Linked DNA regions of Homo sapiens. The protein of the gene in region 4 purifies or fractionates together with the protein of the main gene of each other region. This does not show direct contact. Each region holds a gene or a part of one and is shown on either strand. Other genes may lie near its edges. The genes, in order: ACOX1, MIPEP, PPP2R1B and FOXS1.

Region 1 (7,698 bases), on a different chromosome or scaffold from region 4:
TCTCTTACTTAAAAACTGATCTCCTTGTCATATCCTAAGGACATTGGAAGTGTGTCAAAGGGTGTGTTAAAGTTTGTACTTTAATACTTCACATGAAAAATGATACACAAAACAACTTCCCGGTGTCCATGAATCTTTAACCCGCATAAAAGACTTTGTTCTATTTCATTGTGACCTCACTCGAGTCTGGTTCACATTATCAACAGGTCACAGGTTATGAAATCATCTCTATCAGCTTTGAAATGCACTGCACCACCCATTCAAACACACACACACACACTCAACCCACTTTTTTCCTGACGTTTCAAGAAGGAATAAAATCTTACTAATTTTTTCAAATTTACAAACACAACACAGGTATCAGTAACATAATCTTCTAGGAGGAGTTACTCTATCTCAATATCCCCACAGCCATGAGTTACAAACTTCAAAAACAAAACAGACCATTTGGAAGTATGCTGATTTGAACTACCAAAAATAAATAAACAAAATTTTTTCGTTTAAAACTGAGTGGAGCTCTGAGGAAAGTCCAAAGTGCCAGAGTAAACCATTTCATCTTCACAAAAATAACCCAAGTCAAGCTGAAAATCGATACCAAAGGCACTAGAGGCAGTGACCATTATTACCATAAAGGCAGAACGTGCAACATGTTCTATTTAGCTTGGTTCTAGTCTATACACCACTCATACGATTTAGTCTTTACCGATGAAAATACTGGAGTTCCTTTAAAATGGAGAAACCTAAAAGAGAAAATGCCCAGGAATAAATGAGAAAAAAATGCTATAGGCCAAAATAATCTTGTACTAGGATCATGTAATAGTGTTTGTTTAGGTTAAGGCAAAAAAGTCTTTTTTTTTTTTTTTTTTTTTTTTGAGACAGAGTCTCTCTTTGTTGCCCAGTCTGGAGTGCAGTGGCGTGATCTCGGCTCAGTGCAGCCTTTGCCTCCCAGGTTCAAGGGATTCTCCTGCCTCAGCCTCCTGAATAGCTGGGACCCCAGAAGCGCACCACCAGGCCCGGCTAATTTTTGTATTTTTAGTAGAGAGAGTTTCACCATTTTGGCCAGGCTGGTCTCGAGCTCCTGGCCTCAAGTGATCCACCTGCCTTGGCTTCCCAAAGTGCTGAGATTACAGGCATGAGCCACTGTGCCCGGCCCGAAGTCCTTATTTTTATTTATTTTTACCGTTCCTTGTGGAGCAGGGTGGATCACGAGGTGAGGAGTTTGAGACCAGCCTGGCAACATGGCGAAACCCCATCTCTACTAAAAATACAAAAATTAGCCGGGTGTGGTGGCGGGCGCCTGTAATCCCAGCTACTCAGGAGGCTGAAGCAGGAGAATCGCTTGAATCCGGGAGGTGGAGGCTGGAGTGAGCCGAGATCGTGCCACTGCACTGCAGCCTGGGCGACAGAGCGAGACTCCGTCTCAAAAAACAAAAACAAAAACAAAAAACACAACAAAACACATGGTCTGAAAAAAGGATATACTCTCTTCCACACTAGAACCAAGGCAGGTTTTTATGACGTCTCTCTCATATGCACAAGACAACCATTCAAGCACTGTCATGGATTCAGAACTACTGGGTTCTTAGACTTTCTATTCATTCAGAGGCGTCACAGATCATTCTTCATCCAGGTCCACACTACCATATAATATAATCTGCTATTGCTCCAAAATATTTAAATGGTCGTGCAACTAAAAAAAAAAATGCTCCCAGATTCAGAATTTTAGCAGTCCTCCTTACAAAGAGCAAAATGATTCTGCATTTAAATCAGTCAAATTTGAGTTGCTTGGGCAGAACAATGCTTTTACAACATCCTTGAAACTGTACTCTTGAGAACAAAAACTCCTGCATTTCCATTTATTATCAGCATTCTACAAACACGTCATCCCACGAAAAGGCTTGGATACAAAAGTGATCACATTATTTTTCACACATATAACTTTATTTATTTATTTATTTATTTATTTTTTGAGATGGAGTCTCGCACTCTTGCCCAGGCTGGAGTGCAGTGGCGCGATCTCGGCTCACTGCAAGCTCCGCCTCCCTAGTTCACGCTATTCTCCTGCCTCAGCCTCCCGAGTAGCTGGAACTACAGGCGCCCGCCACCACGCCCGGCTAATTTTTGTATTTTCAGTAGAGATGGGGTTTCACCGTGTTAGCCAGAATGGTCTCGATCTCCTGACTTGGTGATCCGCCCGCCTCGGCCTCCCAAAGTGCTGGGATTACAGGCGTGAGCCACCGCGCCCGGCCACACATATAACTTTATAAAGTTGCATGAAAATATGCCAGTTTGCATCTTCAAACACCAAGCACGGTGATGAAAGGCCACCATAGACCGCAGCTGTAAAGTTTAGGCTTAACAACACTTGCTCTGTTCTAAGGCATACCTACTTTTTAAACCACATAATTTCATCAGGGTCAGCGATGCCAAACTCCCTCATCTTCTTCACCATGATGGCACTTTTCCTGACAGCCACCTCATAACGCTGGCTGCGAGTGAGGAAGTTCAAGTCCTCATGCTGGAAGTCTGGGTCGTTCAGGATCATGTTCTCTGAAAGGGGGTTAAAGGGCATTAAAAGGCAGACAGACACTCGGGCCTCCGTTCCACCCTCCCTGAATCACAATAGGCTTCAGAGTCGCGGACACACCTGGGGAATGGCGATATCCCCCCACCAGGGACACAGGCTGTTCCTCGAAGTGGGGGTCCCGGCTCCCCTAACGCTGGGCCAGAGGGCCTAGGCCCCACAGCGCCCCTGACTCCGCATCGAGGGAGTCTCCAGCTTTTCTCGGGAAAGGAGGGAGGTCTCGCCCGCCGCCCTCACCGATCTCTCGGCGGCGCCGGGTTTTCTCGGGGCTGCCGTCCAGGATGTGTGTAAGCAGCTCCGGGTTGAAGCTGGCGGAATCCCGCTCCCTGCGCAGGTCCGGGTTCATGGCGACGACCAGCTGGCAGCGAAGTAAGCACCGACCGAGGTGGCAGTGACAATCTAAATCCGCAGCTCCAGCGCCGGCCGGACCCTAGGAGGCAGCCTCAGGACGGCGCAAGTCCCCGCCTCCGCTCGCCCGGCCCGCCCCGGCCCGCCCCTTCTTTCTCCGTGGCCCTTTGGCGCGTGAGTGACAGCGGCCCAGACAGAGGGGGCGATGTCCGCGTCGTGGCTGGGGCCGGTCGCGGGGCAGACTAATCCCCTGCTCCTGGCCAGGGGAGGCTCCCGAGCGGATCCTCGGGAAAGGGGCTCCGAAGGTCAAGAAACTGCCCTGCTGGGCGTCCGGGGAGTGGGAAAATAAAGCACTTTTTGTATCCCGCCCCTCCCCCGTCACGTGACCACGCGAGGCGGAAAGAAGAAATCCGAGGACCGGCGACGCCTAGAACAGGTTGGCTGGGGCCTTGGGAAGGGGGCGGGACAACGAGGCTGAGGAGGGATTGCGCCTGCACTTGCCCCCCTCTTACCCCGCGGCCTCTGTCACGCTTCCGGGTCCGTGCCCCTAGGCCTCTCCGAAATGAGAGTGGTCGGGAGACTCTGGAGTCTGGGGCGGGAGATGGGGCTTTGCGGAATTGCTAGGGAGGGTCACTTGGGCTTTTGCCAAATCCACCCGGATTGGAGAAGAATGGGACGGGAACCAGTCTCTTTGGGGAGAGGCTCCAGTTACCTTTTGTTAAGATAATGGCGTCTTTACTGGCAGAGGCGTGGGTTCCGGGGCCCTGGGTGTGGGATTGTGAGCGCTGTTCAAGGGGTGGACGGGGACTTAGAATGAGACCAAGCGGGCGGTGCTGCTCTAAGCCTTCTGTCTGGGAAACCAGACATTTTCCCCCGCAACCTGGCAGTTACTAGAGGTCTTGGAATCCAGACTTCTTTGCTTTCGCCATCACCGTCATCAAAGTGGGAAATGCACACTTACTGTTAAAACCTAGTGTAGGGCCGGGCGCGGTGGCTCACGCCTGGAATCCCAGCACTTTGGGAGGACGAGGCGGGCGTATCACTTGAGCCCAGGAGTTCAAGACCAGCCTGGGCAACATGGCAAAACCCCATCCCTACAAAAAATACCAAAAAATTAGCTGGGTGTAGTGGCATGCGCCTGTAGTCCCAGCTACTCTGAAGGCTGAGATGGGATGGTGGCTTGAGCCCCGGAGGTGGAGGTTGCGGTGAGCCAAGATTGTGACATTGCACTCCATCCTGGGCAACATAGTGAGACCCTGTCTCTACAGAAAAAAAACAAAAAACAAAAACAGTTCTGCCCAGTGGGATTGTAGACAAGGGAGATTCAGGGATTTGTTGAATCATCTCTAGTCATTTTTTTTTTTTTTCTTGAGACGGAGTCTCGCTCTGTCGCCCAGGCTGCAGTGTGGTGGTATGATCTCAGCTCATTGCAACCTCCACCCCCTGGGTTCAAGCGATTCTCCTATCTCAGCCTCCCGAGTAGCTGGGATTATAGGGGCTCGCCACCACACCCAGCTAATTGTATTTTTAGTAGAGACAGGATTTTGCCATGTTGGCCAGGCTGGTCTCGAATTCCTGACCTGTTGATCCACCTGCCTCGGCCTCCCAAAGCGCCGGGATTACAGGCGTGAGCCGCTGCGCCTAGCCTGTCTGTAGTCTGTGTAATACTATGACTTTGGTTTTCTCAGAAGTAAAACTACGAGAGATGCATAACATTCATAATTTGAATAATAGAACTATAATACACACTCTTAACCCCTAGGACCTCAGGATCCTCATTTGTCTTATTAAGCTGCTGATCTCAGGCCCCTTCAACAGCAGAGAGGGTGTCTAGTTTATTCTCTGTACCTGGCACAGTGCCTGCCCCGCTAAAGGTGCTCAGGAAATCTTTGTGGAGTGAACAAATGGCTGCTTGACAGCTGACCTTCTAGTTCTAATATTCTAGGAAACCAATTGCTCTTAATGTAACAATGATAAGGGGTGTACTTAGCATTGAATAGAAAAGACTTAGATGAAGAGCTAAATTTGCTGAGTTTTTATTTTGAAATAATTTCAAATTTACACGAGAATTACAAGAATAGAACAAAGAACTTTTCTTCTGTGACTTTAACGCTTTTTTTTTTTCTTTTGAGATGATGTCTTCCTCTGTCACCCAGGCTGGAGTGCAGTTGCATGATTTCAGCTCACTGCAACCTCCGCCTCCTGGGTTCAAATGATTCTCATGCCTCAGCCTCCAGAGTAGCTGGGACTACAGGAATGTACTACCACACTTGGCTAATTTTTGTGTCTTTATTAGAGGCAGGGTTTCACTATGTTGACCAGGCTGGTCTCCAACTCCTGGCCTCATGTGATCCGCTCGCCTCAGCCTTCCAAAGTGCTGAGATTACAGGCGTGAGCCACTGCGCCTGGCTGGCTGACATTAACACTTTTGAAGTGTATAAGCCCATTGTTTTGTAGTGTTGGGTCTCAGAAAACAATACCCCAAAATGAAGGCCTCAGAAGCAACCCACAAAGCAAGTTGTTTTTTTTTTTTTTTTTACCTTCTGTCCTCCTCTCCCTCAGGTGCATTCTCCCCCGAGCCTAGCCAGAGAAGTTAGAATCCTCTTCCCCAAGGCAGGTCATAGAAAACAGAGTCATTTACCCCCAAAGCCAGCCATAAAACCCTAAATATAAGCTGGGTGCGGTGGCTCACGCCTATAATCCTGGCACTTTGGGAGGCCAAGGCAGGTGGATAGCGAGGTCAGGAGATCGAGACCATCCTGGCTAACACGGTGAAACCCCGTCTCTACTAAAAATACAAAAAAAGCCGAGCGAGGTGCCATGTGCCTGTAGTCCCGGCTACTCGGGAGTCTGAGGCAGGAGAATCGCTTGAACCGGGGAGGCAGAGGTTGCAGTGAGCCGAGATTGCACCACTGCATTCCAGCCTGGGCGACAGAGTGAGACTCTGTCTCAAAAAACAAACAAAAAAAACCCTAAATATATTACTCTTAACTTTCCCTCCTTCTTTTGGTGTAAAAACTGGCCAAAAAGAAATTATCTGACCTAGCTTGTTTGACTGTAGGCCATAAGACTCCATTCCAGAGAGGGTCCTCCCCCACACCCAGAAGGAAGGAATGCCTGTTCCAAGAGGCCAAGAAGAATCTAGACAGACAGGCCTTGCTGGGCCTCCCCACTCAGTCTATCAGCATTAGATCATACCTTTTATGTTCAATCATTTGCATAAAAATGTACAATTTCCCCTGTATCTTTGGGTCTTCCTTCTGAAGGCTCCCATATGTACATGTTACATAAATTTGTACACATTTTTGACTATTACTCTGCCTTTTGTAAGTTGATTTTTTGCAGCGAAACTTCAGAGGGCCCCTTGGCACCTACAGTAGAATGTCCCTTAATTCAGATTTGTCTGATATTTCTTCATGATTAGATTCAGATGATGCATTTTTGGCAGGAATACCACACAAGTGATTAATAGGAGAAAAGGCATACACATGTATTTGATCATAGTTTTGCTTTGTTTTGTTTTGTTTGAGACAAGGCCTTGCTCTGTCACCCAGACTAGAATGCAGTGGCGCAACCATAGTTCACTGCAGCCTCAAACTCTTAGGCTCAAGCATTGATCATAGTTTTATTTATTTATTTATTTATTATTTTTTCAGGCAGAGTCTCACTCTGTCGCCCAGGCTGGAGTGCAGTGGCATGATCTCGGCTCACTGCAGCCTCCGCCTCCCGGGTTCAAGCAATTCTGCTGCCTTAGCCTTCCCTGTAGCTGGGATTACAGGCACCCGCCATCATGCCTGGCTAATTTTTGTATTTTTAGTAGAGACGGGGTGTCACCACATTGGCCAGGCTAGTCTCGAACTCCTGACCTCAAGTGATCTGCCCGCCTTGGCTCAAAAAAAAAAAAAAGAAAGAAAAAAGGAAGAGGCCCGGTGAGGTGTCTCACGCCTGTAGTCCCAACACTCTGGGAGGCCGAGGTGGGTGGATCACCTGAGGTCAGAAGTTCATGACCAGCCTGGCCAACATGGTGAAACCCCGTCTCTACTAAAAATACAAAAATTAGCCGGGCATGGTGGCACACGCCTGTATTCCCAGCTACTCAGGAGGCTGAGGCAGGAAAATCGCTTGAACCCGGGAGGCAGTGGTTACAGTGAGCCGAGATCCCGCCACTGCACTCCAGCCTGGCAGACAGAGCGAGACTCCATCTCAAAAAAGAAAGAAAGAAAGAAAGAAAAATGTATAATCATTATACCAGCAAATTCCTCCCTCGGTGAGAATTGCATAGCAACCCCAGCATCCTCCCCACCTCTTTTTCCCCAGATCCACCAGAAAAACAGGAACATCTAGTGGGGACACTCCTTTAGTCCCCTCATGTTAGTGAGCACACACTCGTGTACACTAGCCCTTCATAATTGTTATCTCCCCCTGTTTTAGACAACCAGTGTTTTCATAGCCTATGCCACCTCTATAACCACCTGATGGGTTCCCACAGCACAAACGAAATCATTTCATGGAGAGCATGGCATTACAGTCAAGAAAGACTAATTGACACAAGGCTGGCCACACCACGTGGGAGTTGGTATTATTAGTCAATCTTCTGGAAGGCTCAGAGATTAGACATTATTTAAATGTAGTTTCGGGGAAGGGGTGGTGGCAGCTAGGCAATGGGTGCTTGCTGCTGATTGGTTGGGGGTGCAACCTTAGGGGTGTGGCAAATGGTCCTCCTGCAGGCTGAGTCACCTCTGAGGGGGGCCGCAGGAGTGGTGGGT
Region 2 (7,025 bases), on a different chromosome or scaffold from region 4:
GCTGCACAACCATGGGGAGGGCAGGATGAGGCAATCTGAGATAAAGACCACAGGACACGGTAAAATGATCACATTTTCCAAATAAAAAGCCCCTTTCCCAATTCAAAGAAAATGTATGTTTGTAAAGGACTGTAGTAAATAAAAGCCCTCCTCATGGCTCACCAGTGACGTGTTGGTAACGAGTACGTCCTAGCATTGAATGCATGGCATGTCCCATTTCATGGAAAAGATTTTCCATCATGCTAGGAGTTAGCAAAGTTGGAGAACTCCTTGAGGAACGGGGAAGATTCAGCATAAGAACTACAACTGGGAGTTGATAGTCTCCATCTTCCTTTAGTCTGCCTCCACGGATAGTGAAATGGCAATCCTTTAAGAATCAGAAAACATAAAAGGAAAAGAAAGTATTTGGTAATGTGAAGAGTAAAACAGTCTTAATGAATATAAAATTTCACCAAAAATGTGTGAGTGCAAACTTTAACTTAATTATATTCTTATTCTATCTATTTACATATATACACCTTTTCTTGACATTTTTTATTCTGCTAAAATTTTAATTTTTTAAAACATCAAGAACACATTCAGTTTCTATGGATTAACTCATTACTTTGGTCCCAAAACATGCATTGAAATGATGCTGTGCCAGAAGCTGGAAACAAAGTCAGCAAAGAACTTACGAAGGGACACTAACATTTATTCTGAGTCCCTACTATGTGTCAGATAATGAACTAGTAGGTACTTTCCATGTCTCTTGGCTATTTTTTTTTCTTTTTTTAAGATAGGGTCTTGCTCTGTTGCCCAGGCTGGAGTGCAGTGTTGTGATCGCAGTTCACTGCAGCCTGGACCTCCTGGGCTCAAGCCATCCTCCTGCTTTGGCCTACTGATTGGCTGGGACTACAGGTGTGCTCCACCACACCCAGCTAAATTTTTAGATTTTTTTTTGTACAGATGGAGTCTTACTATGTTGCCAGGGCTGGTCTTGAACTCCTGGACTGAAGTGATCTGCCAGCCTCAGCCTCCTAAAGTTCTGGGATTACAGGCATGAGCCACCGCGCCCAGCCTCTCTTGACTTTTATCACTTGAACGAGATGGGATCTAAACTAGTGTAAAGCAAGGGATCCGGAGCCAGAATAACTTACTCTGAAACAGGCACTACACTGAGACTCACATACACTGTATCACTTATTCTCCACAACAACCCTATGTAGCAGGTATCTCACTTTTCAGATGATAAAACTAAAACTAGTCTTAGGATTATTAAATAACATGTCCAAGGACACCTAGCTAGAACTGCCACACCTTGGATCTGAACCCAGGCTGACTATTAGGAGCCAGGGCTCCTAATCACTAAAGTTGAGTCTCCACCACCCACCCATTTAAGCAAAGAGGAAGAACACTGGCCTCAGAGTCTGGTGACCTGCACCCTGTTCCTACCTTTCACACCTACTAGACAAATCATCTCGGAAAATAATTTGCTTCTGCAAGCCTCATCTCTAAAATGCTTCCTTGTCAAATCCCACAGTGGCTGTCCAGAATTCATAAGCTCACATCTGTTAAAATCTGTGCTTTGGAAATTGTGAATCACTATTCAAACATAAGGTACATTATTTCTGTTATAACTTATAACCTAAACTCTTGACATTTCCCATCAAGCTACATGAAACTGCTAAAGCTGACTGGCTGTCAAAGTCGGCCAATGCTAAAGAAAAGGAGATGAGCTGCCTCAAGTCTTCCACATAAGGAGCTACTTGGTGGTTGGTAAGGTTTCCACATGGAGTATCTTCCGCAGTTTTAGAATAGGTTCATTGTCGAGTATGGAAAAGAGTTAAAAGTTGGGGATCTGCTCAGGATGTATGCCTTCAAGTCCTAGCACTTCTGGCCAAGTAGCTTAACCTCTATGGCTTCAGTTTCCTCATAATGTGAGTAACTAGTCAAAAGGGTGAGGCGAACATTAAAAGGCTGATGTGTATAACGGGCTCAGTGCACTGTTTGGCACAAATAAGGATTCATAAAATGTCAGTTGTCATTGTTACTATAATTAATACCATGACCCAGATAAAAGTGACAAATATAGACTGATGTAATTATTTCCATAAACTTTTTAATTTTAAAATTCTATCTTAATTTCAAATGTATATATTTGGTAACCATCATTAGTAACTTTTAAATGTCATGGAATTTAAAAAATGATACAAAGTTCACATCAATACAAATGAAATGCCGATCGGTTCTAGAGAGACCAGTTTATAAAGAAAGGATCACCTGATGTGGTTTGTCTGCTCGCTGAAAAAAATCACAGTAAATGTACCCCAACAATCCTTCAGATTCATGAACAACAGCCTAGAAAAAAAAATTTAAATTTGGTGGTAAATGAGGCCATCTGATTCTCTAAAATCCCTAACACAAGAATCTGTATATTAAACATCCATAGCCACACATATAGACATTTTAATTACATTCTACACCCCACATTATCTCGAGATAGATTCTCTTTTCCCCGCATCCTCTTCTGCTCCATCTCTTGAATGATTTTGGTTTTGGAATTCTGTGTCCAGGACAGGAAATCCTCCTCATGAGGGCCTTTTGTCCTGACTGCCTATCCTCTACAATACCTTTACTAACCACCCACAAGAGCTGGGAAGAAGTGCTGGCTGGACAATTTTAGGAGCAAATTATTTTTCCTTCAAATCCTGGAATGTCGTGATATACGCCCAAGCAAATTATAACCCTTGAATTTGAAAACACCACAATGCAGCTCCCAGCTTGAGTTAAAAATCAGCAATATTACTATCTATCCCCTCTCCAAGAGACATAGCTTATAGGAGAGACTCAATCACTACTCTCCATCTTGCCTTCTTTGTTCTTTCAGAATTTAATGATTCCATCAAAGAGAACCCCGATTTTGTGCTTTAAAACTACCTGCAAGTATATATTTATTGTTCATCAAACATCTGTTAAGCACCTACTTGGTGCCAGGAACTCTTCAAGACACTGAGGATACAGAAGTGAATGCAACTGACAACAGTGCTGGACCCCGGTGGAGTGCACATTCTGCAGTTCTGGGGAAACCCTTCATCACCCGCATTTTGTCCTCTCAGTCTCCTCTTATAAATTTTTCTTTTTATTATATCTCAGCATTTTATCAATCTCTATCTTTTTTGGAAGTTTGTAATACAGATAGTGAAGTAAATCAATGCAGTGATGAACGTCCTCCCACCCTGACTCTCCTTTCAATCCCACCACCACACCTACTCTCCACTCACAAGACGTGGCCGAGAGACAATGAGACTGTTTACATTTCTTAAAATATAGTGAAGAAAGCAGTGTGGTAAGCATGCTAGCAAAAATCAAACAACAAAACAATACAAAGCCTTAGTGACACACACAGGTCAACAAAGCCTCAAATCCTATGAGGAAAAATTTAAAATATTCATGCCTCATATAAAGTGGGCCTTCACAGGAGAAAGATGATTGCTAGGTTTGAAGTTATTATCAAAGAAGTTAAATAAATCAGAACACGGACGTAAATTAATATCTGATGCAAATATAAGCCCCTACAACATGGGATGGGGGTTGGAGAGAAAAAAGGTCACTTATCCAATGGATTTGGGAATTAACCAAAACGGACACACAGCTATGAAGGTATATACAAAGTAAAGGACAATTTTCCTATAAATAGAATTTGTGGATATATGAAGGTGCATATATATTCAACCTTCTATCAAGTTCCAAAAAACTTTTTTAGAAAACTCTGCTGTTTTATGTTTGGATCCTTTATACAGTGTCTTAAATCAGAAGTGCAATTTGGATTTTTTTTGTGAAGCAGAAATAAGGCAGGGGACACACTCAGTCAGGGCAAAGTTGATGTAAACCTGAAACTGCTGTTGACTCAACTGCCCAACCGAAAGGTAAATGCCTGCAACTGCAGGCTGAGCAGGAGGAGCTCACCAGTTTTCGGACATCTTCGCTCCACACCTCTCCTTTTGCAGGCTGCTCTGCATATAATGAAATCCCCAACAGTCTGTTAAGCAAAATATTCAGGCCTTCCATGCATGCTCCAAGAGAGAAAAACGGGCAATATAGGCTGGGCTCAATATTATACCTAAGAGAAGGAAGAGAGGTTCAACAGCATCTTTGTTTATTTCAATTTCTGAAGGTAAATTCAATTAACTTTTCATTTAATACTTAAGATCACTGGAGCTAAAGAAGGATTCAAAACATAAAAGTGTATTTATATCATTTGAGGGGTTTTCAGACAGTTTTCTTCAGAATGACAGTCTGATTATTACTAGTGTTAGTTATAAGTCAGTAATTAAGGTAGATATATCATTCCCTAACCTTTGTCCCTTCCCTGTTATTTACTCTTTCACTAACCCAATTAAGCAGTCTCAACTGCTCACTGTATACATTCCTTATACATACTTACATGCAAAATATGATCAGTTTCAGTTATAATGGTAACTCTTACCTTATGAATTATATTCTAGAAACTTGTGACCTATATACATAAATATTAAATGAATAAAAATCCTGAGGCACATTAAGTGAATTTAAAGTTCTCATCCAGTAAAATATTCATTTATGAAAAAAATGCCTGCAATATAAATAATCAGATCTTATCTGTTTTATAGTTAGATATCTTAAATTAAAGACAACGTAACTAGTAAGGTGAATTATTCTTCACCCAAAAATAACTTTTTCTGTTCTATATATTCCAATATAAACCAAAGCAAATCCAAAATACGTGATTTGAATGTTTACATTTGAATCATTAAGTCAAGCCAAAATATATAGCCATAGCCAAAAATAATGGCTCTAGAATATTGTAGGTTCTCATTATATGTCTACTTTTTAGGATTACCAAAATACACATTTTTTTTTCAATTGGCTTTATTTGTGATTCTAGAACTGCACAACACTTCGTTCCATAAAATGAGTCCCCACAACAAATTTATATATAAAAATATAAAAACATAGTTACTAATAAATGAATGAGTTTAGTAAGTGAACATAAATTGCACAACAAATGAGACTTTGGCTATGGACATCCACAAATTTACACCTTAATTTCTGACTGATTTTTCTTTAAACAGAATCCTAGTGTTGAAAGAGACGTTCATGATCCAGTGCCCTCGCTCCCTGGTTCGTTCACTCAAGCATGCTGTCAGCAAACCTGCGGGGTGCTGGAAGAGAAGAATGAAGAGCCTTTGTGTCTAAGCAGCTGGCACTGAAAGAGGCAGAGAAGTGAACCAACTACACTGTGTCCTGGGCCTGGTGCAGTGGGCACACGGCTGGCGCTCAACAGACAGTGCTGAAGCATGAACGAATGAGCACTGCAAAATGGGAGGGCAAAGGAGAGCATGATGACTTTACTTGTGGAGTGCAGAGTAGCACCAGGGAAAGCTTCTCGGATAGGAATCAAGAAAGAATCGGCCGGGTGCTGTGGCTCACGCCTATAATCCCAGCACTTTGGGAGGCTGAGGTGGGTGGATCATGAGGTCAGGAGTTCAAGACCAGTTTGGCCAACATGGTGAAACCCCGTCTCTACTAAAAGTACAAAAATTAGCCGGGTGTGGTGGCGGGTGCCTGTAATCCCAGCTACTCGGGAGGCTGAGGCAGAGAATTGCTTGAACCCAGGAGGCGGAGGTTGAGTGAGCCACGATTGTGCCACTGCACTCCAGCCTGGGCGACAGAGCAAGACTCTCCATCTCAAAAAAAAAAAAAAAAAAAAAAGGAATCAGACTTTGCAAGGCAGGGCTGGGATGAGGAATGGAAAATGGGAATCATAATAGGAATTCTAGGCAGAAGCGACAGTATAACTAAAGTATGATGGCATAAAATAGCCTGGTAACTTCTAGAAAGGATGTGGTTAAAGATGAAGCAGTTACCAATGCAGGGATAAATGTAGAAAGAATGGGAGCGGAGTCTGGAAAAGGCAGGCAGGGGCCAGAAAACAGAGGGCCTGGTCCACTAAGCTGAGGAACTGGGACCATGCACCATAGGCCATGGCCTCTAAGCTTCCTCACCAATGCACACTAAAATAACTTTTGAGTATTCAACCTTCTATTAGTACACTCATAAAGTATATGCATGTGGTATTGTTTTATCACATTGCAAAAAGAAAAGCAGACATTTTTATAAGTTGAGATAAAGAAAAATAAATATACATAGAATTTCTAATATTTTATGACTACACTCTCAATGAATTGCTTACAGATGCCATTTGGGAGACAGCTTCTGTAGGCCATAGGGGAGCATCTGATGTTTTCTGGAATGCTGCACAGTGGACAGCATGGAGGGTGGAATGCAGGAGGCAGGGAGGGCTGACAGGAGGACAGACTTCCAGGCTTCAGAGGGTGAACTCTGACAGAGGGCAGTGGGGTCAGGGATGAATGTGTTTTTCCTTTGAGATGCAAACGTCTCAGGACTGTGTGAGTGATTGGATTTGGAGGGTGATGAGAAAGACAGAACAATCTAGAATAACACTCAGGTTTCTGGCTTGGACAAATAAGTGGATGGTAGAGTCACTGAATCAGCCGGCACAATGAACACAAAAAAGGAAGAGGGGAATCTGGGTGTGTTTGTGGGAGAAGAGAGGAGGGTGAGGTGCAATGATGGGAGGAGGATGGAGGGCTCACAGAAAATAAACTCCATTTTGGAGGAACCGACTGTGAAGTGCCCATGAGATACCAGACACTCAGGACCCAAAGCTAAGGAGAACAAGGAGACTTCACTGTACAGATATTAGAGCCATAGAGGGAGACAGGGCCATTAGGGAAGGGCGATGCGGGCAGAGAAGGTAAAGGGCAGACCCCTGAACTACCAGAGGGAGGGGTGGGAAGGAAGACACAGAACAGTTCAGAGGTACTGAAGAACTGAGAGAAAGGAGTGCATGGAAAGAGGGGAGAAAATAAACTATAAAAGGAAGTGGTCCAGGCTTGAGGTTTCCACTCCTGCACATGAGGAGGTTGAAAGTCACCACTCCATCCTAACAAGCAGGAAGCTGAACAAGCTGAAAATCAAGAATC
Region 3 (7,025 bases), on a different chromosome or scaffold from region 4:
GACATCCTCAAAAATAGTTGCTAAATTATTTTCTTTAAGCAAACCCAGATCTTAAGTAAAGTGAAAATCCCTGAACTTAATTTTAGCTAATTACTCCCCACTATAAGGTAAAATTTAAAGTACACTTTTAAAACAAGACTAAACACTAAAATCTTACTTGGTATCTAGAATTGGTCCAATCTTTTGTAGAGATTTGGCCACATTGAAGCGAACATTTGCTACTTGGTCTCCTGCCATTTTTAATACGATGGGCAGCATTTGCTTAGTAGTTATTTCCTGACCACAGGCCTCAGACAGTGCCTAGAAAAATAAGTAAGATGGCACATTTAAAATACTTTAAAAAATTCCAAAATCTAATGAAACAAATTAATATTTAATAAGAAAATAATTGACCAATAGGAAAATATTTCTAGTTTGAGCAGCTGAGTGGGGGACACAAGAATCATTCAAATGATCAGAGAATTAGACCAGAATTCACAAATAAGTTGAACTTTTAAAATACTGTAGTTTTGTTCTTTGTTTTTTTTTTTTTCAGGCGGAGTTTTGCCTTGTCGCCCAAGCTGGAGTGTAGTGGCGCGATCTCAGCTCACTGCAACCTCTGCACCCTCTGCCCCCTGCCCAAGGTTCAAGGGAGTCTCCTGCCTCAGCCTCCCAAGTAGCTGGGACTACAGGCATGCACCACCATGCCCGGCTAATTTTTGTATTTTTAGTAGAGACAAGGTCTTGCCATGTTGACCAGGCTAGTCTCAAACTCCTGACCTCAGGTGATCTGCCCGCCTCAGCCTCCCAAAGTGCTGGGATTACAGGCATGAGCCACTGTGCCCAGCCAATACTGTAGATTTTAACATGAATTTTAAAATTGACATTTTCTCTCATCTCCTGTCTATTCCAATTAATCAATACAAGACATATATTCCAAATAGAAGACAGTATACTGATAATTCAGAAATAGTCATGAATAATTTTGCTTTAATGATTAAGCTTAGCAATAACAGTTATGTTATACTTACATTAATGCAGAATAAAGTGGTCATTCTATGCAAGTAATTAGGATCATTTGCCATTACTAACACTTTGGGAACAATAGTATTTTGGGCCCACTCTGTACCAAACTTCTGAACTAGTTTCATGAGGTTGTTGGTGGCAGCTTCTCGGATGGCGTATACTGCAGAAGAGGTCAAAAACATGTTCTCATATCGCTTATTGTTTTTTAAGCATAACCTAGTTTACTTACATGAAAATCAAATGTGGACCAAAAGCAAAACCCCTCTGCAATCAGACTCCACATGTAATCATGCTGCAATGACAAGCATGCTCAGCTCCAACTCAGTTTCCAAGTGTGCATATCCACAGAAAAGGGATGCAAGGAGCTCACCATATGCATCATCAATTATTTAACAAATACAAGTGCCTACTATGTGCTACAAAAAGAACACAGAAGATACTTTCCCTCACAAGAAATATGCTCTTATCAGAGAAATGAAAGCTAACACACTCCATGAAGTCACATGGTGTAAGAGCAATTAGAATGAAGTGTGGCATTGTGTAGTAAAGGCTGTGAGGGTTGTAGCAGTGCAGAGAAGAGTGAACAGGGAAGGTCTAGGAAGGCTTCGGCACAGAAAGAAGCCTTGACTGGGCAGTGAAGATTTGGGAGGATCTGTGTAAGTGGAGAGAAGCGGGGAGGAATTCCTAGAAAGGGTAAAGACATGTATCCAGGACACAAACAGAAAAAACTGAAACCTGTGAGACTTCTAAGTTAGACAATTAGGGTGGACCCAGACTGCAGAGCATTATGAAAGACTTAGATTTGATTAGGAAAAACAGTGATGGGTTTTTAAAGCAAACTTGTGACCTGATGACCAATGTGGAATTTTAGCAAGATTATTCCAGCAACATCACGGAGAAGCGACGTTGACTGAGAAAGACAACAAGGAAATGGTGTAGAGGCCACTGTGGTCATCTATACAACAGCAAATACAAACATCAGACTGACTTGCTTCCTCTCCATGAAAATGCTTAGGTTGAAACAAGATGTCAAATGTCTTTGAATCAATGTGCCTGCCTTAACATCTAATAATTCCCTATATCCTTTGATCATTTATCAAAGACATAAAGCTAGATAATAAAGGTCTCAGCTACAATCCTCTCACAATTAGTTGCTATATACAGCACTGAACAAAAACAAGCCTGGTGTCACTTCACTTTACAGATCCAGTAAGACTCAAAATTTGGGCTCAGATTAACAAATCGAGGGTGGTAGGTACTAATTCCTTATTCTACTTCTCTCCCCAGGTGGGCCCAACCTTCCTGGGATGATAGGAAGGGCAGGAATAGCTATCCAAGCCACAGTCCCAGTCCTAGGCAATTTATACAAGCCTCCAACCAAGAAATAGGCAACTTCTTCTATTCATAGATCCTTCTGGGCAATGATGTTGAGAACAAGCAAGACAGCATAGACAAGTGACCCATACAACTGATTATCAACACTTAAACTGACAGTCTACAGGAGAAGCAACCTTTCGGTAAGACTCAGATGCACTAAGGAGCAAACTCAAGTCAACTGTTTTACTGTAATACAGATTCCTTCCCTTCATATCCATAGTCTTTGTCTTTGGCCCAAACCCTTCCCTGTCCTCCCCACTAAAGAGGAGCTAGCTAGAGTATTTGTGTCTTCTCCTCTAATTTTTTTTTTTTTTTTTTTTTTGAGACAGAGCCTCACTCTGTCTCTCAGGCTGGAGTGCAGTGGCGAGATCTCGGCTCACTGCAACCTCCGCCTCCTGGGTTCAAGCAACTCTCCTGCCTCAGCCTCCTGAGTAGCTGGGATTACAGGCGCCCGCCAACACATCCAGCTAATTTTTGTGTTTTTAGTAGAGACAGGGTTTCACCATGTTGGCCAGGCTGGTCTCGAACTCCTAACTTCAAGTCATCCACCCGCCTCAGCCTCCCAAAGTGCTGGGATTACAGGCATGAGCCACCATGCTCAGCAAATTACTATTTTTTTTAACACGCTTTAGATTTTTATCATAATGCCATTACCATAGGAAGGGATCTCTACTGCCAGAAAAACCAGAGACTGGGGAACACACATGCATAGCCTTGACCAAGACCTTAACTGCACTGAACTCTACTTGGCCAGATGCCTACTATGTTCTTGGTTCCTCTGACTGTTTTCAGAAGAATGCAAACCATTCCAGAGTTCTGCCTGTTTTCTTTTGTCTATTTCTGTCTCTTTCTCTCTCCCCATCTCCTCTCAAGGCCTGGCTGACCTGCAAGGTTTCTTTGAATGTCTATCTATGCTCAATAACTGATACCTTCTCCTTTCTCCTATAATAAATAAATAAATTTCCCTTCTACATTCCTCCCTCTGATCAAAACTGTCTACTCAACCACAGGAATATAGGTGAGTGATACTTTCTTCCTTATACTTCTCTGGAATTTTCACAATGTTCTTTTAGTAGTTACCTAACTAGGGGAAAAGTTTCAAAAACTCTAACTGATCCAGTGATCATTATATAACACTTATCTGAAATGCAAAAGCAAAAAAGCTCCTGTGATTAAGTACAAAACAATTTCAGAGCTGTTATTTCATTGGTTCATGGAACTCTTGCAGTCCCCACTTCAGCATGCTGCTGCAGTGAAATAAACAAGGGTTTCTCCTGCTCCCAAACTGAAAGAGAAAATCCGAAAAGAGGAAGGAGTAATCAAGTTGCATAGAGAAGACAATCTTACAGAGAAAGGGTGCCAGGAATTTAATTCTTTGTGGAATATTAGAACTTTAAAAATTCCTCAAAATAAAACACCATCTTAATCTAAAATGCCAACTTTTAAAGAAAGCATAGAATGACTTGAGGCCAACCCAAATGCCCATCAATGACAGACTGGATAAAGAAAATGTGGCACATATACACCACGGAATACTATGCGGCCATAAAAAAGGAATGAGTTCATGTCCTTTGCAGGGACATGGATGAAGCTAGAAGCCATCATTCTCAGCAAATTAACGCGGGAACAGAAAACCAAACAGTACATGTTCTCACTAATAAGTGGGAGTTGAACAATCAGAACACATGAATACAGGGAAGGGAACATCACACACTGAGGCCTATCAGGGGGTGAGGGGCGAGGGGAGGGAGAGCATTAGAACAAATACCTAATGCATGTGGGGCTTAAAACCTAGACGACAGGTTGATAGATGCGGCAAACCACCATGGCACATGTATATCTATGTAACATAACAAACTTGCATGTTCTATGCATGTATCCTAGAACTTAAAGTAAAATAAAATTTAAAAAAGCACAGAATGATTTGCTAGGATGCACCATTCCCAGTAACGTCAAATATTTATCAGATATAACATAAACATTTTTTTTAAAAGTGGTATTTCTTTCCTATGATTTGCCAAATTTTAATTTTATTTAAAAAGAAATAAATAGGCCACAATAAGATAACTTTAGAGAAGAAAAAGAGAAAGAAGTCTACAATCCAGTTTGAAAACACTGGAAATACCCACATATATAAGCCCTTATACATTTTCACATATTTTTTCACATCCTTCCTCTTCACACTCTTAACCATATGATCCTCCATATGATGCAAACATGCCTTTAACAAAACCACCCACACGTATAAGCAGACACAAATATCCTCATTCCTCCCAAATTTCCAGGCATAAGCACCCATAGATGAACAAAGAGATACACTAAATACATATATCAAGTATATAAAAGATACTGTGGAACTGACTCAGGTTATCTATTATATCCACCAAAACATGGAAACAAAGCTCAAGGACAATGTCACATGACCCCATAGGGGCACTCACACTCATCGAAACAGGTCTAAGACAACACTGAAGCTGTCAAGTCTGGACCTGGGATCTGGCAGAGACGGTACATCTGTCACCCACTGCTGCCTGGCACACAAGGGGATACACACATATACCTCTACCTGAAGCCTCACCAGGAAGTCACTTGCTCATTCCTGCTGTCCTATCTGACCTGCCCTGAGCTCACCCTCTCCTAGCACTGTAGCAGCAGCAGTGAGAGTACAAGCAGTAAGCCTTCCTTTCACCCAAACCAGAAATCCAGGCCCTCTCTCTCCCTATGGCAAAGCTAGTGTTTCCCACACCTAAGAATCCTCTACTGTCTCACTGTAGATCTCCTCTTCTATGTCACCTCAAAAAGCCAAGTAGCCATTTCTCCCACCCAGGCCTTTCATCTGATTCCAATCTCCATACAACCTAGTGTATAGCTGCTGAAGACACCAATTACAGGATGGTCAAAAAGAGGATCTTCAGATAAGGGAGGAGTAAGTAGATATATAAAAGAGATGGTCTGAAGATAATGTAATAGATTGAGTAAGAAAATAATGCAAATAAATTGTTTAATGGAGAAAATAAAATCGAAGATACAAAAAATTGGTAGAAACGTCAAATTTATATTCAGAAGATTAAACTTTAATTAGAGCCTTTCTTCATTCCTACAATATTAAGGCAAAATATCTGGTCAGACTGAGATTCCTTTCTAAAAGGAAATGTATGAAAATCATGGATATATGGGCTTTCAATAATCTGTTTTTATCTACTCACCATGGTCCACGAGCCAAGCCATACATAAAGAATTCAGCTTTTCATCAAAGAATTCCACACCCTACAGATACAGAAGATTCCATTAACATACATTGCCAAAATTCAGAAATAAAGATGGTCTATTTACATTACACCAAGGTTACCTGAAGGCTAAAAAAACTTGTTTCCAAATAAACAAATAAGAGATAGAAACACCACAGGAATTACAAACAAACCATAAATCTATTTATTGGACGGAAATCATAAACAAAAAAAAAGCATACGTGAGCTGGCATAGGCCCTGCTAGGTAAAAGAGAACAGGGTGGCCAGAAGTCAGCCACAACACTGCAAAAGAGCAGGAAGAATGCACTGTGTATGGTCTGCCAAGCAAATCTGGATTACCTGTAAAAATGAATTACCCAGGAAAACACCTGTCAGTAATATTACTAATTCTCAATCGTCTTCCCTTTTTGGTTACTATTATGACAAATCCTTAAGGATAAAGCAACTGACCTCAAGACATAGAGATATCCCCAGTTAAAGAGAGTATTTTCGAGACAACAGGAGAAAGCCCTGGAGGGAGAATAAAGCAGGCCCAGGACTACAGGGCATATGGCCCAGGCATGGCTTGCTCTCCCAGCCCTGTTCCTCCCGACTGTCAACAGGTGGCCACTTCAGTGCAGGCTGGGGATGGGCTCCGGGAGCAGATTTACACAGTCCTCTAACCCCGGGGCTTCCACACCACATGGAGAATGCTGTGACACACTTTCCTAGTGCCTCCCTTCTGGGGTCTACACATTTACAGTCTTGCTTCTTTGAACTCTAAGAAGTTCCTGACTGGTGATTCTATATTTTAAAAAAAGAGAGGTAATATAATGTGTCAGTGCTTTGAAAATAGTGATTGAATAAGACAAAATAGCTTTTTTTTTTTGAGATGGAGTCTCACTCTATTGCCCAGGCTGGAGTACAGTGGCACAATCTCAGCTCACTGCAACCTCCACCTCCCGGGTTCAAGTGATTCTCCTGCCTCAGCCTCTCAAGTAGCTGGGATTACAGATATGCAGCACATGCCCAGCTAATTTTGTATTTTTAGTAGAGACAGGGTTTCACCATGTTGGCCAGGCTGGTCTCTTAACTCCTGACTCAGATGATCCGTCCGCCTCAGCCTCCCAAAGTGCTGGGATTACAGGCATGAGCCACCGCACCTGGCCCAAAATTGCTTTGTACTAAAAGATCATAATGAACAAATTTTGGCATACACTTAGATTACGTCAGCCAAGATTTCTTTTTCATTTCAGGTTGAGAATTTTCCTTCAGTTTTAATTAACTTTTATTTTCCAGTTTGTTGTTGTTGTTGTTGTTGTTGTCGAGACGGAATCTCTCTCTGTCGCCCAGGCTGGAGTACAGTGGTGCAATGTCAGCTCACTACAACCTCCGCCTCCTGGGTTCAAGCAATT
Region 4 (6,472 bases):
TCAAGCTGCAGGTCAGAGGCTGGAGGGTAGAGCCACACAGATGTGGTTTTGATTTACCCTCTGCCACCCATTTGCCCTCTGGAGTTGGAGCTGGCGAGCCTGTTTCCACCACTGTAAACGGGGCCAACTTTCCAAATCACACAGGTGAGATGATACATACAAGCCCGGGACAGGATCAGTGTCACAAATTGTCAGGGTTATGATGACTGCACCTACGGGGGCTAAGTCCCAGCATCTGAGACTGGAGAATCAGTCCCTCAGGCCAGCCCAGTCTTGCCCCTGCCCAGTCTCTCCCTTGCCTGTATCCTCCTCTCCCTGCTCCCCATTCCCTACCTCCCCTTCCTCTCCCTTTCTAGGAAACTCCCTGAGAAAGTCCCCAGCAGGAGAAAACCTCATGTGAGATATTCCCACCAAGGGTCTCTGCCCCCGCTGCACAACCCCACAGCCACAGCCACCCCCACATACAAGCAGGCACCCTGGCCCTCAGCCCCCAGCCATCAGGCAAGCTGACCCTCATCATCACATGGCTTTATTGGCCCTGAGAGCCACAGAGTAAATCCCAAGAGGCCCTGCTTCCCCTCACCCCCAAGTTTGTCCGGAGGCCCCAGGGGCCTGGCTGAGCACCGCTTCAATCCTGGCTTTCTGTGTGGTTGTCCTTGGCTCACCAGGGCTGGGTCCTTCGAGAGTTCTTCAGGTCCTAGAGCCAGGCTCAGCCCGGAGGGTGAGGGACCTGCAGGGACTGCCCGAGGTGAGGCTGCCTTTACTCAAAGAAGAACATTCCTGGCGTCCGGTATAGGCAGGGGGTCAGCCCCAATGGGTAGCCGGAGCCTCCCTGGACAGGGAAGCCACCTGCAACCCAGGGTTCCTTGTGGTCAGTTGGCAGGGGCAGTGGGGCCCGGAGTGAGCCTGGAGGGGTGGGTGGTGCAGGGGAGGGGGCTGCTGAGGCCAAGAGGTGCTCAAGGCCTGGGTCAGCCCCCATGCAAAAATTCAGTGCCTGCAGCCGACACTGGTAGCTGCTCCCGATGCCTGATTCCGGGGACAAGACGGGCGTAGGGGCCTTATTAAAACTCTCAGCCTCTGAGAAGCCGGCAGGAAAGCCAAACGCTGGGCATGAGGAAGATGAGGTGGCCACGGGGAGCTCCCCTGGGCATGCAGGCTTGGGCGTGGAAATCTCTTTGGGCTCCATGGGTGGCCGAGGCCTGCCATCAGTGGTTGCTGGGCACATACTGGCTGGCATGGCCCCCACCAGACCCCCAAAGCTTAGGCCCTTGGGATCTGGCAGCTCTGGTGGGAATGAGCACTGCCTGCCGGTCGTGGCGTTGGGGACTCCTGGGTCCTGGCTGGTCGCCCTGAGGGGTCCACGGCGTGCCTTGGCGGGGCCCCGGGTGCCCTCAGCACCTGTCTGCCGGGTGAAGCGGCGGCGGCGGCGTAGGAAGCTGCCGTGCTCAAACATGTCGTGGCAGTCAGGGTCCAGCGTCCAGTAGCTGCCCTTGCCTGGCTTGCGGTCATCGCGGGGCACCTTGACAAAGCACTCGTTGAGTGACAGGTTGTGGCGGATGCTGTTCTGCCAGCCGGGCCGGTTGTGGCGGTAGAAGGCGAATCGGCCCATGATGTAGCGGTAGATGCCACTGAGGGTGGCCCGCTGCCCCGGTGAGCTCTGGATGGCCATAGCAATAAGGGCGATGTAGCTGTAGGGAGGCTTGGTTGGCTCAGTTGTGGGGGCGCCAGGCCCGGGCAGAGGCTGCTGCTGCATGCTGGCCGGGCTGCCAGGCTGCTGGGACCTGCTGGGTCAGGCTCAGCTTCCAGGGCTGGCGTCCGGAATAGCCTGCCCAGGCTGGTTAAAAGGTCCACTGGCCCAGCCTCCCAGCCTGGAAAGGCAAAAAGGGGTGGGTCTGCTGAGCCATCCTCCCCTCCTCCCTCGCCCCACTCCCACAAGGCCCAAAAGAGGCGGGCAGGAGAGGCCAGTAGTGGGAAGCCGAGCAGCTGCCAGGGATGAGGAGTTGGGAAGGAAGGGACTGAGACCCTCAGCCCACGTGTGCTGGGTGGTGGTGGCTGGGGAGGGACAGGATGTGAAACTGAGCGGGACAGAGACAAAAACAAAATGAGACAGAGGCAGAAACATATGAAACAGAGACAGGGAAAAAAGAGATAGAGACAGAGAGAGGTAGAGACATCACAAGAGGGAGAAAGAGGGAGAGACAAAGATAAGACAGAGGCAGACACAACGGACAGAGACACCCAGAGCCTCTCAGACACTCACAGAGAGACACACAGACATACACGTACAGACACACAGAGACACACAGACATACACGTACAGACACACAGAGACACACAGACACAGACACACACACAGACACACACACACAGACATAAGCACACACACACATATACACAGAGACAGACACACACAGACACATAGGCATACACACAGACACACACACAAGCACATACACAGACACACAGAGACATACACACACAGAAACACAGAGACACAGACACAGACACACACACACACACACACACACACACACGTAGTATACGGAGAAAGTGAGAATCACTGAGCAGGCAGAAACAAGGAAATCCACAAAGCCAGAGAGAAAGGAGATACTGAGAGACACAGGTGCAAACACAAGGAGTGAAAGGAATGAATAGAGAGAGAGAGAGAGAGAGAGAGAGAGAGAGAGGAGAGAGAGGCAGGGCCTGAGCCCAGTCCCCCTAGAGTGAGAGAAGCCCCAGGGGCTTCTCTAATCCCTACCTCTACTCCTGCTTTTCCCTCTTCTCCCAGGCCTGTGGTCTACTGCCTTCTCCTGCGGTGCAGAGGCCTTGGGGCCACACCACTCCTACCCCATCCTCCTAGCTCTGGGGTGTCTGCAGGGAGGGGCACCTAGGATGGTAAGGAGAGCCCATGAAATTCAGTTCTGCTGCATCCCTGTCGCCCCCTAGTGACTGGTGTGGGAAGGACAGCTATCTGGGGAGAGACATTCTCCCTCCCAAGAGGCACCTCAAGACCTTGGCTGAGCCTCAGTTTCCCCATCTCTAACATGGAGCTGGTGACTCCTCAGCTGTCCAGGCCATGGTGGGGAGGCAACAGGTTCCCCTTACACAGAATGCAGCACCCTCATCAAGAGCCTAGTATGGAGTAGGGATATGAACATGGCTGCGGATTGTCACTCTGAACTGAGGCTACCCCAGCTGCAGCCTGGGGTCGGGAGGTCCAGAGAGTCAGGCCCAGAACAGTCAGGCCTTCTGGAGGAGGGGACGGCATCCTCTCTGCTCTCCCACTCCCAAGTCACTGCTCACCCACTCTGTACCAGGCCAGCTCACCTCCCCAACCCTACACTTACTTCTTCAACCAACCCTGCTCTGGAGGGCTTCATTGCTTCTTTTGAATAGATGAGGGCTCTGAGGCTCAGAGAAGGTAAGTAAATTCCCTGATGTCCCACATCTAGTGAGTGACAAAGCTGGATATGAGCCTAGGATTCTGTAATTCCTAAATACTGCCTCTTCAGTGAGGGGCAGGGGTAGCGGAGAGTCGCTGGGTCCCCACTAGAAAACAGAATGTGAACTCCAAGAGAGTAAAGAGCATGCTGTTTTGCTGTACCCCCAGAGTCACACACTGGACACTGGAACAGAGGCCTGGAACAGAGTAGGTGTTCAAGAAATGTCTGCTAAATGACTAAACAAACAGCAATTGATTGATTTCTGTCCTTTATCGAATCACAGTTTTCCCCCCATGAAGGTGGCTTATTAATGTATCATTAAAAGAGACTTACAATATTGGCATCTGTAAGAGGATTCCTATAAATAAAATCAGAACTCAGAAAAGAATAAAAGGCCTGATATGTGGGGTGGAAAACAGCTACTTTATTCCCATGGCAGGGTAACCAACTTTCTGGTTGTAGTCCCCCTTTCCAGTTCTCAGATTGCCTACAACGTACAGCTTGCAAAGACCAGTGGGGCTTGGAGAAGGGCTGGTCTTCCACGTTGACCTCTGCCTTAGGGCTGCATTTGGAGGTCCGCCTCAGTTTCTTCAAAGACAGCATCCTACAGGTGCTGGTACTTCAGTGGTTAGCATCCAAAGCCCAGGGTTCGGCCAAGTTCCCTGTTTTGGGATCCTTCCCAGCCCCCAGAATAAAGAAGAGAGACTAGCTGCAGGGAGGAGGAAGGTTCTGTAAATTCTAGGCCCCTGAGAGGCTAGGCAGTTTTGTTATGGCTTGATCCCACACTAAACAACCCTGATGATCTAATTATTGGTAAAAACTTTAAGCAAACGTTTTAATGGACTCAACAGCAGGTTAAGGCTGGCTCTGAGGAAAGCGCTATTGACAAATTGGGCTGTCAGCAAGAGATGAAGTCTTGCTTCTGCTCCAGTTGCTGCCTTTCTGGGGCCTCAAGATCAAGTTCAGTTTCCTGCCGAAGCCCCATGCCCAGCTGGGGGGCGGTGTGGCCTACTCTCGAGTTCCGGGGCCCCGTGACAGAGGAGTGGAAGGCCGCGATCCACCTCTGCCGTCCGGCAGACCTGGGTGATGTGCCGGGGGAGGCCCCAAGTCTATGGGCTTAGTGTGGGCAGGGTTGGGTGGGAGTAGGGAGCCCCCCTGTTGGGGGCTGCCTTCAGCGGGTACAAGAAGAGGAAGCGGCTCGCTTAGGATGGAGGCAGCTGCATTGAAGGTGAGTGATGCCATCGGGGTTGCCAGGGGTTGAGGACCCATCTGGGCGCTCGGTTGAGGCACTTAGAGTGCAGGACGAGCTCCCAGGCCGAAGCTGCACCTGCACCTGCGGGGGCGGGTGGGGCGATGAGCAGACCCTCTCCATTTCCCGCCTCGGATGTTCCCATGGGAAGTCACAGCCCTAGTTACAGCCCCATCCCTACCCCCATTTTCCAGGTAGGGTCCTACAGACCCGAGGGTGCTAGAAGTGTCAGAGGCAGAGCTGGGACTGGAGGGAGTGTGGGAAGGGCTGTCTGGAGGGGACTGGAGGGCGTGCTTCTTGGCTGGAGTGGAAGGAGTGACTCACGTCCGCCATGATGAGCTGCTCCTTGGGGTGCTGTGTGGGGCCCGGGTCCTCCTCACCGAAGCACAGACAGATCTGGTACTTTGGGTCCGGTGACCATCCTGCAGGTGGGCACACAATTATACGACACTGAGACTATAGGGACTGGGCAAGAACTAGGCAACCCACTGGTGCCCATCTTGTGCTCATTTCCCATGCCCAAGTCCTGTAAGCCCACATCCCATTGTGTGCCTGTACCCTAGGCCCACTTCCACGTTCCTATGCCTGTCCCATGTCCCACATCTGTGCCCACTTCCAGGTCTTATGTCTCTTCCTTGGCCCCTATGCCCACCCCATGCCTTTATGCCCAACCCATGCCCACTGCCACTCACCTATACCTATCTCGTGCTTGGTGCACCTCACATCCACCTTATGCCCTAAGCCAACACATGTACCGAAGCCCTATTCTTATGCTGCACACCCAACGCCTCAAGCCTTCTCCATGCCAGCACCCCATATACGCCTGTATCCGTATATGTGCCCCCAGCCCTCCTGGTGCCTGTATTCTTTCCCATCCCTGGTGCTTTTGTGCCATATTCTTTGTGTCAATGTCCACTTCATGCCCAGCACCCTTAGGCCCATCCCCCTGGGCCTGCATTTAATGTGCCCACTCTCCTCTGTTCATGTTCCTTTGCCCACCGCGTCCTTATGCCCCCGTTCCCACGCCACTCTGTTCCACTCCTCCAGCCGTCCTACCGCCTGGAGGAAGCCGCGTGTGTTCAGCAGGTGGCAGGTGCGCCTGCGCTCCACCTTGTTGGGCTGCGCCAGTACAGGCCCTGGCACAGGCGCTTGGTGAACACGCCCTCCGGAGCCACCCAGAGCTGCACACCGCGCTCCAGGTGAGGCGGCAGGCCCTGCAACACGTGGGCGCTGGGCAATGGGTCGGGGAAGCGAACCTGCTGCAACGTGAGGTGGCGGCCCCAGCAGGCGCTCGGCGGCCGCCCGCGGACTCAGACGACAGCGCTGGGCTGTGCGCCCGGTGGCTTCGCGCACCAGCGCTGCGGAGAGAAGAGCCACACGTGCAGCCAGCAGGCTGTGGGGCGAGAGAGGGTGCACGGGCTGGACGTGGGCGGCGCTAGCTCCCCTCGCCTTCTTACCCTCCCCTTCAAACTCTGCCGGACCCAGAGGTCGTCCCAGCCTCTACCTCGGAAATTTTGGGTGCTCTCTCCCTATCAGTGATGATAAGAATTCTAGTAATAATAGTAGTAAACAATAGCTTCCAGTATAAACGAACTGATAGTCGAGCTCTGCGGTTAAAAGCTGGGGCCATCTGTACAGTGAGGGCATGACCCTCCCAGCAAATCTTCTGGGATTCTAGGAGCTTCCTCCCAGCAAAGATTTTGATGCAGGTAGAAATAACCATAACAGCGACAATAACAACAACCTAGCAGCGTCTCATGAGAAACCAGCAATCCTGCTC

The links.
Region 1: the proteins of FOXS1 (region 4) and ACOX1 purify together in Homo sapiens (affinity purification with mass spectrometry; 3 studies listed by BioGRID and IntAct, with this or other methods). This does not show direct contact.
Region 2: the proteins of FOXS1 (region 4) and MIPEP purify together in Homo sapiens (affinity purification with mass spectrometry; 3 studies listed by BioGRID and IntAct, with this or other methods). This does not show direct contact.
Region 3: the proteins of FOXS1 (region 4) and PPP2R1B purify together in Homo sapiens (affinity purification with mass spectrometry; 3 studies listed by BioGRID and IntAct, with this or other methods). This does not show direct contact.

Annotation. Positions count from the first base shown.
Region 1 is NC_000017.11:75,976,144-75,983,841, forward strand, and holds the start of ACOX1 (peroxisomal acyl-coenzyme A oxidase 1), read right to left. Parts: upstream 3,024-7,698; 5' UTR 2,931-3,023; coding exon 2,822-2,930; exon of another isoform or gene 2,648-2,821; intron 2,551-2,647; coding exon 2,391-2,550; intron 1-2,390. UniProt on the Homo sapiens protein: Involved in the initial and rate-limiting step of peroxisomal beta-oxidation of straight-chain saturated and unsaturated very-long-chain fatty acids.
Region 2 is NC_000013.11:23,837,390-23,844,414, forward strand, and holds part of MIPEP (mitochondrial intermediate peptidase), read right to left. Parts: intron 4,100-7,025; coding exon 3,946-4,099; intron 2,338-3,945; coding exon 2,260-2,337; intron 368-2,259; coding exon 163-367; intron 1-162. UniProt on the Homo sapiens protein: Cleaves proteins, imported into the mitochondrion, to their mature size.
Region 3 is NC_000011.10:111,742,366-111,749,390, forward strand, and holds part of PPP2R1B (serine/threonine-protein phosphatase 2A 65 kDa regulatory subunit A beta isoform), read right to left. Parts: intron 5,650-7,025; coding exon 5,589-5,649; intron 1,166-5,588; coding exon 1,011-1,165; intron 301-1,010; coding exon 158-300; intron 1-157. UniProt on the Homo sapiens protein: The PR65 subunit of protein phosphatase 2A serves as a scaffolding molecule to coordinate the assembly of the catalytic subunit and a variable regulatory B subunit.
Region 4 is NC_000020.11:31,843,790-31,850,261, forward strand, and holds FOXS1 (forkhead box protein S1), read right to left. Parts: upstream 1,816-6,472; 5' UTR 1,754-1,815; coding exon 761-1,753; 3' UTR 514-760; downstream 1-513. Other genes in the region: DUSP15 (dual specificity protein phosphatase 15), read right to left, coding at 4,615-4,776, 5,017-5,114, 5,949-6,085. UniProt on the Homo sapiens protein: Transcriptional repressor that suppresses transcription from the FASLG, FOXO3 and FOXO4 promoters. May have a role in the organization of the testicular vasculature.